2 linked regions of the Homo sapiens genome follow. The protein of the gene in region 1 interacts with the protein of each later gene in a pairwise test. Each region holds a gene or a part of one and is shown on either strand. Other genes may lie near its edges.

What was found. Proteins that work in one complex are often made in the same cells at the same time.
Region 2: the proteins of SVOP (region 1) and TAAR1 interact in a two-hybrid assay, tested with the Homo sapiens proteins (one large-scale study listed by BioGRID and IntAct).

The regions. Positions count from the first base shown.
Region 1 is NC_000012.12:108,937,569-108,941,068, forward strand, and holds part of SVOP (synaptic vesicle 2-related protein), read right to left. Parts: intron 3,342-3,500; coding exon 3,216-3,341; intron 1,388-3,215; coding exon 1,259-1,387; intron 1-1,258.
Region 2 is NC_000006.12:132,642,812-132,645,997, reverse strand, and holds the end of TAAR1 (trace amine-associated receptor 1), read left to right. Parts: coding exon 1-1,014; 3' UTR 1,015-2,686; downstream 2,687-3,186. UniProt on the Homo sapiens protein: Intracellular G-protein coupled receptor for trace amines, which recognizes endogenous amine-containing metabolites such as beta-phenylethylamine (beta-PEA), 3-iodothyronamine (T1AM), isoamylamine (IAA), cadaverine (CAD), cyclohexylamine (CHA), p-tyramine (p-TYR), trimethylamine (TMA), octopamine and tryptamine.

The DNA.
Region 1 (3,500 bases):
TCCAACCTGGAAACCTGGACTTGGGAAGCAGATCCCTCCTTCCTGGCCCCTCAGACCTCAGCACAGATCCAAGGACACAGCAAGCAGAAAACCAGTCCAAAGCATGTCCAGCCATTTCACACACACACATGTGCCTTCCCCAGTTCTAGGTCTAGGTGGCAACAGTTAATGTGCTGAGAAACTAATTCACCAAAGGCCAATTTACCAAAAGATTGATTAGCTAAATGACCGATTGGCCAATTTTACATAATTCACAAATTTATCAAACTTTGCTTTACGATGTTCTTTAAAAAATATATGCTATGGCCAGGTGTGGTGGTTCGTGCCTGTAATCCCAGCACTTTGGGAGGCCGGGGCAGGTTGATCACTTGAAGCCAGGAGTTCGAGACCAGCCTGGCTTTCCCTCATCCATGGAAGGGATCTCTCCCCAAAGGCAACCAAATAGGCTTCTGCACCTCTTGAGGAATCCATCCTGCTCTGCCCCTGTAGATTTGGGGCAGGTCCCCTGGACTCTATGTTGTCAGACCAAACACCTCCTTCCAACTTGGTGAAATGCCATTCAGTTCTTCTTGCATAATATAAAAAGAATCAGAAATATAACTTTATTTTAAAAGGTAATTTCTTTATAGGATCTGATGTCTGCTTAAGGTATTTGTCATGTTTCTTCAATCGGCTTGGATGGTTCTTGAGGGCAGGGACTGCAGCCTTAAATCCGAATCTTTTCTCCCCATGTGTGCAATGCTGGTGCCTACATATACTAGGTGCTCATTAAGTTTCACCGTGGTGGACTCCCTGATGGTGTTACCAGCGGAGTGAGGCACCATTCATTAAGAACACCTACACAGGGTGCGGTTTGATCCCCTAGATCTAAGCACACTCCTTCCTGATATGGTTTTATTGCACAGCTTTTGCCAATCAGTCTCATTCGCTAGTCAGACTTCATCTGTGCTGAAAGGCGAAACCAAAGCAGGAGCAGTTACAGGACCCATTAGCAGAGGTTACTTTTCTCTAATCACTGGTGAAATTCTCCAGGAAGCATTTTTAGAACTTGGAAGTGAAAATACAGATTGGAGTTGCCAAATTACCCTTGCAGGTCCTGTCTACTGGGCCCTCATCTGCTCCATGTGCACGCACACACCCCACCTTGGGTACACATACCCACATGTGTCCTCGCATGCATGCCCTACTCCATATGCACACACTCCCCTGCATGCACCCCGATACGCACATTGCAGAGTCTATTGGTCCAGGCACTGACCTGTCTGGAGATGATGAGTTTCCCCAGCGGCATGGGAGCTCCGTTTTCAGTTGCTATCCTCTTTAAGGTGGCGATTGCCTTTTCCTGGTTCCCTGACAGCACATCATACCTTGCACTTTCAGGCAGCCACTGGGATGGGGGAGACAGGAAACCCAGGCGTGGCTGGTTAGGGTGGAACAGAGCACTCGCTTCTAGCCACACAGTGTTGCATGTGGGGTCTTTAAGAGTGGGGGCTCTGGAGCCAGAGAGCTGACTTCAAATCCTGGCCCCACCATTTATTATGTTGGTTGTGTGACCCTGTACAATTACTTGACTTCTCTGTGCTTTCATTTCCTTCTCCATAAAATGTGAATGATAAGAGATCCTACCTCTTAGGGCTCTTAAGAGGATTAAACAGGATAATACAGGCAAGGTGCCTAGTGCAGTGCCTGGTATGGGTTAATGCAGTTATTATTATTGTCACGGTTGCTATTACTATTATTTGGGGCTGTTTTCAGAGTTCCAGGTGAGGGCTGAATTAAATTAAGATCACTGTCAGAAATCTCACCCCCATTGTTCAAGGAATTACACCTCACCTGTATTCAGCATCATCTTGCAAACTCAGTTCAAGAGAAAGAAAGAAATCAGAAAGATTTTTAGGCCAATGGAAGTCCCAACCCCAAATGACTACATACATACATTTCTGTAAAAATGGAGCAACAGCTGTTTGAAACAGCAGGTATACTGGAGAAAAGACTAGGAGTTAGAAGATCTGATTTAGAGTTCTTTTGTCTACTTGCTGTAGGCCCTTTAACAAGTCAATTAGCCCCTCTGGGCTTCAGTTTTCTCATCAATAAAAAGAGGATATAGCAGAGAGTGCAAATGCCCACCAACATTCTGTTTCCTTTTTCATAGCGCAAAGTTGTCCTTAGATGTGGCTGCCCAGACAGGGACTACATTTCCCAGCTCCCTTTGCATCTAGGTGGGACCAAGTGACTTGTGTTCACCAATGGCATATGAGCAGACTATTCCTGGCCAAGGTATTTAAGAAGTGACTGTGCAGTCTCCACTTGCCTTTTGCAAGTCTGTTGTCTGTATGTAGAAGACTTCAAAGCCCTAGAGGATGGCAGAGCCACCAGCTGGACAAAAACTGGGCCCAGAATTCCACTTGCCAACCAGAAAAGTCATTCTGAACTATTGTGTTAGTGAGAGAGAAGCTCCTATCGTGCTGTTACTGAACTTGTGGGCTTTATTTGTTTCAGCAGCTGGTATCACCCTGACTAATATAGGGGTTCATTATAGTCCTGTGATTATTGGGAGGAATAAATATGATAATGCATGGAGCACAGAGCCTGCCACACAGTTAAGCTTAATAATTATTAATACTTATTATCATTACCAGGAATTTTTGTGGTATTTACCGTACATGAGAACTACCCATCTCTAGGCTTATTTTAGTGCCTACTGGCTGTAAAGTGTTTCAAGCATGTGCCCATGAAATGATGAGTATGTGGCAAGATCTCAGTAGAGGGTGTGGTTTATGCACAGATGAGATGAAGAGATCATTTAAACTCCTGGAGCCAGCCATGCCTGAAGTCTGACTTAATCCTCTGAAATGTATTTATCCCTCTCTTTTACTCAAGCCAGTTTGAATTGGGTTTCTGTCATTTGAAACTTAAGAGTCTCAACTAGTGCAATACAATCACTTTAAGTGTAGATTTTGCAATGATGGGGCCAATGTATCCTCCCATCCCCAGTTATCTCCCCAGAAAACATCCCAGAAGTGTCTGTCTGGAGGAAATCTAACACTCCATACTGGGGCTACCCCAGGCCATAGCTCCCTTGTCTCATTTCCTGATTTAAAAAAAATAATCTTGAAAGGTGGCTTTGGTATCCTTCCCTATCCCCTCCCCACCAAAATAGAGTGGACAGTAAGATGTCAGACAGCAAAAGGTGAAATCTCTTAAAGGATACCTACGAAACACAGCACGGCAAAGAGGAGGAGCGGGACAGCTGAGAGGATGAGCAGCCAACGCCAGCCCAGGCTGGGCATCACGAACACAGCCAGGACGACCTCGAACACTGTCCCGATGGCCCAGAATACCTGGCACAGGAGAATCAGGGTCAGTGGTGGGGGTAGCATGGTCCATACAGAGAGGAATTATGGGGGCATTGTGGACAAGGGTATCTCTGTGGGTAAGGGGTCATCGGAGTCAGTAAGGTTAGAATAGCCACACTTTCCCTGTGGTCTATATGGTTGGGC
Region 2 (3,186 bases), on another chromosome or scaffold:
CCCTTTTGCCACAATATAATTAATATTTCCTGTGTGAAAAACAACTGGTCAAATGATGTCCGTGCTTCCCTGTACAGTTTAATGGTGCTCATAATTCTGACCACACTCGTTGGCAATCTGATAGTTATTGTTTCTATATCACACTTCAAACAACTTCATACCCCAACAAATTGGCTCATTCATTCCATGGCCACTGTGGACTTTCTTCTGGGGTGTCTGGTCATGCCTTACAGTATGGTGAGATCTGCTGAGCACTGTTGGTATTTTGGAGAAGTCTTCTGTAAAATTCACACAAGCACCGACATTATGCTGAGCTCAGCCTCCATTTTCCATTTGTCTTTCATCTCCATTGACCGCTACTATGCTGTGTGTGATCCACTGAGATATAAAGCCAAGATGAATATCTTGGTTATTTGTGTGATGATCTTCATTAGTTGGAGTGTCCCTGCTGTTTTTGCATTTGGAATGATCTTTCTGGAGCTAAACTTCAAAGGCGCTGAAGAGATATATTACAAACATGTTCACTGCAGAGGAGGTTGCTCTGTCTTCTTTAGCAAAATATCTGGGGTACTGACCTTTATGACTTCTTTTTATATACCTGGATCTATTATGTTATGTGTCTATTACAGAATATATCTTATCGCTAAAGAACAGGCAAGATTAATTAGTGATGCCAATCAGAAGCTCCAAATTGGATTGGAAATGAAAAATGGAATTTCACAAAGCAAAGAAAGGAAAGCTGTGAAGACATTGGGGATTGTGATGGGAGTTTTCCTAATATGCTGGTGCCCTTTCTTTATCTGTACAGTCATGGACCCTTTTCTTCACTACATTATTCCACCTACTTTGAATGATGTATTGATTTGGTTTGGCTACTTGAACTCTACATTTAATCCAATGGTTTATGCATTTTTCTATCCTTGGTTTAGAAAAGCACTGAAGATGATGCTGTTTGGTAAAATTTTCCAAAAAGATTCATCCAGGTGTAAATTATTTTTGGAATTGAGTTCATAGAATTATTATATTTTACTGTTTTGCAAATCGGTTGATGATCATATTTATGAACACAACATAACGAACCACATGCACCAACCACATGGATTTTTTTTTAAATCAGTTACTTGAGTCAAAGTATGTATGGTGAGTTAAATTATGATGCTTATAGGTAATTTCCTATTTGGGACATAGTAGGTATACGCTTTTCCATTCTTACCACACATAATGGAACTTTGCAAATCCAGTATTTAAAGGCCTACATTTTATATAACTTTTCCTGCCCTTAGAAGAACTGCCATGAGTTTACTGTGGTACCTTAGTCAGCTGTTCAGTGGTGGAAACTATAGGGCTGAATTTGAGGATGCAAATCAGAATGATTTTGTCATATACGTATACATGTCCTGGTCACATATGTGTATAAGTCTTTTAGTAAAATCAACTAAAAGTACACACATTAAATGTTACCGCTAAATAATTGTTGACACATAATTTATTTGTATTGTTAATATATATTCCAATCCTTAAATATCTTGATCTTCACATTTTTAAATTATGTTTTTCTGATTCTCATGCTTCTAAGAAATTTGAAAAATAAAGGAAAATATAAAAATAAAATATATACAAACCAAATGAAATTAAAAAAATGTTATTCATAGTATACTTCCTGGTAAGGATTATATCATCTAAAATTCTTTATTTTATATTAATATTTCTCTTTTTCAACTTTTATTTTGGAGTCGGGGCATATGTGCACATATTAACTAAATATAATGCATGATGCTGAGGTTTGAGCTATGAGTAATCCCTTTTTGTGGCTGTATAACGTGACTGCACAGATGTACAAATATATTTTTAACCATTCCCTATTGTTAATTCCAGTTGTTTCTAACTTTTCTAAAAATAATATAAATTAAATGAAATTCCTGCTTTTTACCTGCCACTGAAGTCATGAAAATGTCTAGAAGGATTTTACCATGTCTTAAGGTCATATCTGGCATGATAGGGTTCAAAACACAGGCTACCTGGTATTAAACAAATTCACTTTGCTGGGCTCCACAATACACAGAAGGAGAAGCAGTCATCCATCAAAGTAGCTAAACATGAGGGCCAACAAGAAGTATAATCAGACTAGATGTACCATGGCTATTTAGATGGCATATATAAAAATACAAAAGAGGAACAAATAATGGTTTCAAATAAGATTCTCTAAAGGAAGTGGGCAAACATTCTAAATTACAAGCATTCATCAGCAATTGAGCTGATGAATACAAACTTCACATGGTCTGTTTCAGATTGAGTATCACTGGGGATTTGGATTTACCTTCTGCTCATGAATAAGTTAGGGTAAGGCAAATGATTTTAAACGTAACTAAATGCACACTGCTGCGTATAAATTTCTGTTTACAAATCTGAGGATCTCCGGAGGATATGTGAAATCCTTCCAGAAATTATAGTCTGTTTCTGGAGTATATATTTTGTTTCAATGATCTGTATCAATTTTTGCTCTAGTACTTTTAAAAACATTATGTTTTATGTTTTTAATTTAGTACACACAAGACTAAATAAGTAGTGTCCCTAATCACTCTCAGTTTCAAAAGAGTTTTTTTCACCTGTGAGACCAGTTTGACTTTTTTCACCTGTGAGTCCAGTCTGTCAAATTTTAAAAAGGAAACAAGCATTTAGTGAGTTTTCTATACTTTACAGTAATTTTATGTGCTGTTCTTCATTTGCTCCCATAATTCTTCTTAAGATTACTCTGAAGTGTTTTGTGCTTTTCTCTATGTATGTTTTGCCTATTCTGAATTTTTTTCTAAAACCATTATGTTTTCTTTGTAATCATTACTGCTGGTTATATAATAAAGTTTATATTAGCTTTTCAGTTGACTCGTTTGGGTTTTCATTATACAAATCATGTTATCCTCAAACAAGGCTAAGTTTTATCTTCTTTCCAATAATTATGATTCTGATTTATATTCCTTACTGTACTTCATTAGTTAGAATTTCTAAATCAGTATTGATAATGGTAATAACAATCATCTTTGTCTTATCTTACATTTACTTTAAAGTACTATACAGGTTTTAGCATTGATTCCACATTTATCTTGGGACAAGTTCATGACTCAAATAATTTTACATTTTTCACTCGGTACTAAAGCTCTTACAGTCTATTTTTATTGTAGGTTCTGTTTT